Linked DNA regions of Homo sapiens. Changing the gene in region 2 together with the main gene of any one other region gives a genetic interaction. Each region holds a gene or a part of one and is shown on either strand. Other genes may lie near its edges.

Region 1 (3,813 bases), on a different chromosome or scaffold from region 2:
CTTAAGAGCAGCACTTTGGACCCTGGCTTAGAGTACTAGAGTCCCAATATCATTTGGGCTTCTTTAAGGAAGAAACAGTTGGCAGAGAGGGGGCTGCCCAACTAAGTCCTGAGGCTAAATCCAGGGCATGTGAGTCACTGCAGTCTGACATGACTCTAAAAACTGGGAAAGGAAGCAATGTGCTTCTTCTTAACAGAGATACTGCACTATTCTCTATGTATACTCACTTGATGGCATGGTACATGTCCTCCAGGATGTCTTGCTCAAAGTCCTTGCCTCCATTCACACCTTTCAGATTTTTGCGAAACTCCTAGAGACAGGCCAGTAAGTTTTTTCCCCTTGTGTCAACACTGAAGCCCCACCTAAGGAACTCCTGGGTTTTCAGTAAATAGGACTTAGGAAAAGGTAAGCGAAAAAACCCACTTCCCCACCCCAGTCCCTTTTCTAGGTTGGCCAGCCCTTCCTGATTCCCTTGGACAGAACCCCATCCATCATGCCCACTGGAAATCCTATGTCCTTCCTGCTACCTCCCAAGCTGTGCTGGGTCTTCTTTGCCTTGACTGGGACCCAAGCTTACCTCCAGGGTCATGGGTGCATTCTGTTTACGAACATTGTGGTTGTGCTGGTCAGTATTAAGCATGATGACAGCATAGGCCAGGGAAAAGCAGGCATCGCTATTGGCAAATGGGGAGCCATTACAATTCTGAAAAAGCAAAGATCCCGCCTGTGTCAATGCCCTTCTCTGGCCAATTAAACCCTCACTACCAACCCACTGGTCAGTGCTAGTACAGAGGAGAGGTACCATCCAGAAAGTGGCCAGTCTCTTGCCAACTCCTTAACAGAAGCTGATCTCTTTGTGGAAAGGTCACTAATTTTGCTCTCTGACTTTTTAAGAGACAGCAGGCTGGGTGCGGTGGTTCACGCTTGTAATCCCAGCACTCAGGGAGGCCGAGGTGGGCGGATCACCCGAGATCAGGAGTTCGAGACCAGCCTGACCAACATGGCAAAACCCATCTCTACTAAAAATACAAAAATTAGCCAGGCTTGGTGGCAGGTGCCTGAAATCCCAGCTACTCAGGAGGCTAAGGCAGGAGAATTGCTTGAACCCGGGGGGTGGAGGTTGCAGTGTGCTGAGACTGCGCTACTGCACTCCAGCCTGGGTGACAGAGCGAGACTCTGTCTCAAAAAAAAAAAAAAAAAAAAGAGACAGCAGCTGGATTCTTCAGCCCTCAGTCAAACTGACCTTGGATCCTGGGCTCAGCCCCTGACACTCAAACTCACCATCCAACGCTCTGTGAATGCCTCCAGCAACCTCTGGATGACTGGTGCTTCCCCAGGCAAACGGAAGGCTTCCAGGTAGAGGCGGAGGGCTTCGTCCAGTCGCAGACCCTGAAAACTGAAGGTGCTATAGGGAAAGAAAGGAAGAAGAGGCTGAAAATGTGTAAGCTGCACATGTCAGGCTCTTTTAGTCACTGTCCTCCTAACCTACTCTTACTGGAAGAGAGGAGGCTGAGGTCTCTAGTAAAGGGGCAGTATCTCCTGTTCATCCCTAACACAACCCCTAGCCTTAATACTTTTCACATCCACGGACTCTTGCCTAGAACCCTCACCCCCTGGAACCCTGCTCTACCCCTTTGGAATGGACTCCATGCAGAATGGAGGGGGCTCCCCAAACTATCTCGTTGGAGTCCCTTTCAGGTCCAATAGATATAAATGATGGGTAGAGGAAGAACATTGGCTAGGGTCTCCAGAAGAAATTTATAGAGACCGCTTTGAGGTAGGGATGTTCTGTCCCTTTAAACTGATCACTAACCATGTCCCACCTTTTTTTTTTTTGAGCCAAGGTCTCACTCTATCACAGCTCTATCACAGTGGCATGATCTCACTCTATCTCACTCTATCTCACTCTATCACAGTGGCATGATCACAGCTCACTGCAGCCTCGAACTCCCAGACTCAAGTGATCTTCCTGCCTCAGCCTCCTGAACAGCTGGGACTACAGGCACATGCCACCATGCCCAGCTAATTTTTGTATTTTTTGTAGAGACAGGGTTTCACCATGTTGCCCAGGCTGGTCTTGAACTCCTGAGCTCGAGTGATCTGCCTGCCTCAGCCTCCCAAAGTGTCAGGATTACAGGCATGAGCCACCATACCTGGCTATATCCCACATTTCTTACAGCTTCCTCACCTCACAAAGCTCTCCAACAGGTCAATGTTTTTGCGGTCACTCACAAACTCTCCAATCATCTTCTTGTCCAGCCGAGGGTTCTCTCGGAGCCACTGAGCAACCTCTGTGTTGTCCATTGGGATGGTGAGGAGGCCTTTCTCTTGCAGAAACTGAATCCCCTTCTTTGGTTTCTGATTGAACTGCTCTGTGCCAGTGATTAGCAGCTGCATGAGAAAAACTAGAGGTATAGAAGCTACTTTGCCTCTAAATTAGACAAGGCCAGCCTGGAGTCCACCATAGCCCACCCACAGTTGGTCAGCTAAAAAGCTCCTAGGATGTGGTTCTTAGTGATTACAGAACTAAGGCTAGATCATAATGGCCTTAGCTTCCCCCATCTTCATGTCTAATTGAATTGGCTTACGAGCTCTTTTTTACTCCTTTCCTGAGTGCTCAAGATACATAAAACAGTTCCTCTTCTCTAACTTAGGATTGGGGGAAAAGTAGAAGAAAGAAACTAGGTAATTCTTCTCTCCAGTTTTATATCCATCCCTGACATTTGTTGATAGCCAGCCTCTTGTTTTTAGCCTAGCTTAGCTTCTTTGGTTGCCTAGCTTAATGCCCTGGGTTTGAAAGACAAAGTGGACTAACTGTGGAGGCAACTCATATTTCTGTATGTCCAGTCACGGCCAGGTACTCAAGGGCACACATGAACCAAAGTCATTTAAGCTGGCAATAAGAGAAAGAAAGGGTTAGGTTTTTTTTTTCTTTTTCCGAGATGGAGTTTCACTCTGTTGCCCAGGCTGGAGTGCAGTGGCGTGATCTCAGCTCACTGCAACCTCTGCCTCCCAGGTTCAACTGATTCTCCTGCCTCAGTCTCCCGAGTAGCTGGGATTACAGGCATGCACCACCATGCCCAGCTAATTTTTGTATTTTTAGTAGAGACGGGGTTTCATCGTGTTAGCCAGGCTGGTCTCAAACTCCTGACCTCAGGTGATCTGCCCACCTCGATCTCCCAAAGTGCTGGGATTACAGGCGTGAGCCACTGCGCCCGGCCAGAAAGGGTTAGGTTTTCTTTGTGTTAAGAAACCCAAAGTACAGGCCAGACATGGTGGCTCACGACTGTAATCCCAGCACTTTGGGAGGCCAAGGTGGGCAGATCACGAGGTCAGGAGATCAAGACCACCCTGGCTAACACGGTGAAACCCCGTCTCTACTAAAAATACAAAAAATTAGCCAGGCATGGTGGCACACGCCTGTAGTCCCAGCTACTTGGGAGCCTGAGGCAGAAGAATTGCTTGAACCCGGTAGGTGGAGGTTGCAGTGAGCTGAGATCATGCCACTGCACTCCAGCCTAGGCAACAGAGAGAGACTCCGTCTGAAAAAAAAAAAAAAAAAAAAAAAAAGAAATCCAAAGTACAAACAGTTATTTGAACCTTACTATTTGAACCTTACTAAAGCACCAGAATGAATATCAATTTCCCTTTATTGCCAATCATCTTGCAAGAGCTGGAGATGACAGTAACCTTCAATGACCCACAAGACACCAACTCCCAAGGCTCCTGTCACTGCCACTAGTGACACTTGGCTCTCAACTGGTACAGCATTTGCGCAGGGGCATACATAGGGTATGCTCAACTACATAGCTT
Region 2 (3,813 bases):
AAAGTGTTGGAATTACAACTGCGAGCCACTGCGCCCTTCCAGTTTTAAAAATTTTAGCCATTCTATTGGGTGTATAGCAGTCTTACTGAGGTTTTGTTTTATTTATTTATTTTTTTTTATTTTTTATTTTTGAGGTGCTCTCTCTGTCATCCAGGCTGGAGTGCAGTGGCATGATCTCAGCTCACTGCAACATCTGCCTCCTGGCTTCAAGTAATTCTCCTGCCTCAGCTTCCCAAGTAGCTGGGGCTATAGGCGCGTGCCACCACACCTGGCTAATTTTTGTATTTTTAGTAGAAACGGGATTTCACTATGTTGGCTAGGCTGGTCTCTAACTCCTGACCTCAGGAGTTTGCCTCGCCTCCCAAAGTGCTGGGATTTACGGGCATGAGCCACAGCCCCCGGCCCTTACTGAGGTTTTCATTTGCATTTCCATAAGACTCGTGATGTTGAGCATCATTTCACGTGTTTATTTGCCATCCATATGTCTTTTTAGATAAAGTGACTTGAGTCTTTGCTTCTTTCAAAATTGTGTTGATTTTCTTAAGTTTTAGTTCTTTGGCTGGGCGCAGTGGCTCACGCCTGTAATCCCAGCACTTTGTGGGCTGAGGTGGGCGGATCACGAGGTCAGGAGATGGAGACCATCCGGGCTAACACGGTGAAACCCCCTCTCTACTAAAAATACAAAAAATTAGCTGGGCATGGTGGCGGACCCCTGTAGTCCCAGCTACTCAGGAGGCTGAGGCAGGAGAATGGCGTGAACTTGGGAGGTGGAGCTTGCAGTGAGCCGAGATCACGCCACTGCACTCCAGCCTGGGTGACAGAGCGAGACTCCGTCTCAAAAAAAAAAAAAAACAAAAAAAGAAGGGTTTTTATTATTTCGATGAAATTCAATTATTGACTTTTAAAATATTTCTTGCTATTGTGTTATATTTAAGAAATAACTGCCAAACATCAGGTGGCAGTAGGATTTTCTCCTATGATTTCTTCTAGATGTTTTATAGTTTCAGCTCTTGTATTTAGGTTTGGGATCCATATCAAAGTTTTCCATATGGTATGAGATAAAGGCCAAGGTTTATTTGTAAATTATTTGTAAATGGCAGTGCAGTTGTTTCAGCACTGTGTTTGCTAGGGCTGCTCTACCACACAGGCTGGGCACGGCTTAAACAACAGAAATGTATTTCCTCATAGTCCTGGAGGCTGGAAGTCCAAGATCAAGGATAGGGCAGGGCTGGTTTCTTCTGAGGCTCTGTCCTCTATGCCTGTGTCCTCATCTCTTCTTAAAAGGATATTAGTCAGATTGGATTAAGGTCCACCCTAATGACCACATTAATTTTAATTACCTCTTAAAGGCCCTAGTCACACACTTTTCTCCACCTTCTTTTTTTTCATGTAATATGTCCTGAAGTTTGTTCTGTACTAGCATGTAGAGGTATTTATAGCTGCAAAGTACCCCACTGGTATATGTATCATAATTTGACTGGTCCTCTGTTGATAGACACTCAAGTTCTTTTTAATTTCTTTTTGTTTTTACAAATAGTCCTGAAATGAATAGCCTGTGTATACATTTTTTATCTTCACCAATGTTATCTGTGGGATGGATTCCTAGAAATGGAATTGCTGGGTCAAAGGTTATATTTCACTTTGTGTGGTAGCTATTTGTTAAGCCACTATTTTAAGTGGCAAGGAATGGCCTCTGAAAATTTCCCTGATACCAAGATTCGTCTCTTTTTTTGAACTTGTTTCTTATCAGTAAACATGAAACTGTATATTATTTTGTGTACGCGTGTATATGCTTTGGAAGCAAAAAACAAAATGGAAAAAATAAGTGCCCTGAACCATTCCCTCCAGCCTCTGAACTCATTTGCTGCACTTCTTTATTGACCAGTAGAGGCCACTGTTGAATAACAAAGCTGGCGGGAAGGCCAGCGCACACCCGGGCAGGTCTCTGTGCTGAGCCTGCATTGCCAGGAGCAGGTCTGGAGCTGCAGTTTTTAGACCACCCTTTCCCCTCCCTAAGGGAGGGTGTCACGCAGGGGAGTGCCAAAGGGGAACTCCAGATGAAGAATAAAGCCAGCTCTCTTTGGTACGAGCTCTTCTTCATGGTCCCACGAAGGTGATTTGTAAAGCTTTTGTGTGTTCTGCTGCCAGGCCTCTACTTAGTTGCCCACTGACATTGTGTTTCTCCCGCACCCCACCTGCTTAGCAGTTTACAGTCTATCTGCCGTAATCTGTTATTTTTTTCTTATAATTAGGCGGTTTGGCTTGAGACACAAGAATGGGACTAGATTTTAGATGACTGGGTGTAGGAAGCCTAGCAAATTAGGTTCTGTGGTTATTTCTCCTGATCTACTCCACATGAAGAGACACAAAGGGAGAACATCAGGGTGTGGCTTGTGAAATCCAAGGTCTTAGTCGGCTTGGTACTTGACCTCATTCACATTCAGTTCCCACCCACCCCTGAAATGTTTAATGCACTTGGCCCTTGGGGCCAGCACTTGCCTTTGGCCTGCCTTGCTGGCCCCTCCTTGCCACTCTGCCTTCTCTCACTGCTGGGTGTCAGCACACCCTTGTGACAGCACTTAGGTCTCTTCAGGACCTCTGTTTCCTGGATCAGGGCTTCTCAGCAGGTGTTAGTGGTATTTTGAGTGAAATAATTTTTCCTTGGGTAGGCCTTGTTCTACCCAAGGTTGTGGGTTCATTAAACGGTTAATCGGTACATTAGTCCGTTCTTATACTGCCATAAAGATACTACCTGAGACTGGGTAATTATAAAGGAAAGAGGTTTAGTTGACTCACAGTTCTGCATAACTGACGAGGCCTCAGGAAACTTATAGTCATGGCAGAAAGGGAAACAGACCTCTTCTCAAGGCGGTAGGAGAGAGAAGAGCAAGCCAAGGAAGAACTTGCCACACACTTATAGAACCATCATGTCTCCTGAGAACTCGCTATCACGAGAACAGCATGAGGGAAACTGCCCCCATGATCCAGTCACCTCCTACCAGGTTCCTCGCTCAACACTTTGGGGATTACAAGTCAAGGTGAGATTCGGGTAGGGACACAAAGCCAAACCATGTCATTTCTCCCCCTACCCCTCCCAAATCTCATGTTCCTTTCAAAACCATTCCATTTCAAAACAAATCATGCCTTCCCAGCAAGGCCCCCAAAGTCTTAACTCATTTCGTCATTAACTCAAAAGTCCAAGTCCAAAGTCTCATCTCTGACAAGGTAAGTCCCCTCTGCCTAGCAGCCTGTAAAATCAAAAGCAAGTTAGTTACTTTCAAGATACAATGGAAATACAGGCATTGGATAAATACTCCCATTACCAATGGAAGAAATTGGCCAAAACAAAGGGCTACAGGCCCCCATGCAAGTCCGAAATCCGGCTGGGCAGTCATTAAATCTTAAAGCTCAAAATGGTCTCCTTTGTGACCCCGTGTCTCACATCCAGGGCACACTGATACAGGGAGTGGCTTTCATGGTCTTGGGCAGCTCTGCCCCTGTGGCTTTGTAGGGTACAGCCCTCCCACACCCACCCCCTTCAGCTACTTTCATGGTGGGCATTGAGTGTCTTTGGCTTTTCTAGGTGCACAGTGCAAAGCTCTTGGTGGATCTACCGTTCTGGGGTCTGGAGGATGGTTGTTCTCTTCTCACAGCTCCACTAGGCAGTGCCCCAGTGGGGACTCTGGGAGCTCCAACCCCACATTTCCCTTCTGCAATGCCCTAGCAGATGTTCTCCATGAGGGCCCTGCCCCTGCAGCAGATTTCTGTCTGGACATCCAGGCGTTTCCCTACATCCTCTGAAATGTAGGTGAA

Evidence for each region.
Region 1: changes in UBE2G2 (region 2) and GBF1 together harm fitness more than expected from each alone (negative genetic interaction), as found in Homo sapiens cells (one study listed by BioGRID).

The regions. Positions count from the first base shown.
Region 1 is NC_000010.11:102,363,975-102,367,787, reverse strand, and holds part of GBF1 (Golgi-specific brefeldin A-resistance guanine nucleotide exchange factor 1), read right to left. Parts: intron 2,392-3,813; coding exon 2,189-2,391; intron 1,406-2,188; coding exon 1,282-1,405; intron 704-1,281; coding exon 578-703; intron 311-577; coding exon 228-310; intron 1-227. UniProt on the Homo sapiens protein: Guanine-nucleotide exchange factor (GEF) for members of the Arf family of small GTPases involved in trafficking in the early secretory pathway; its GEF activity initiates the coating of nascent vesicles via the localized generation of activated ARFs through replacement of GDP with GTP.
Region 2 is NC_000021.9:44,791,577-44,795,389, reverse strand, and holds part of UBE2G2 (ubiquitin-conjugating enzyme E2 G2), read left to right. Parts: intron 1-3,813. UniProt on the Homo sapiens protein: Accepts ubiquitin from the E1 complex and catalyzes its covalent attachment to other proteins. In vitro catalyzes 'Lys-48'-linked polyubiquitination. Involved in endoplasmic reticulum-associated degradation (ERAD).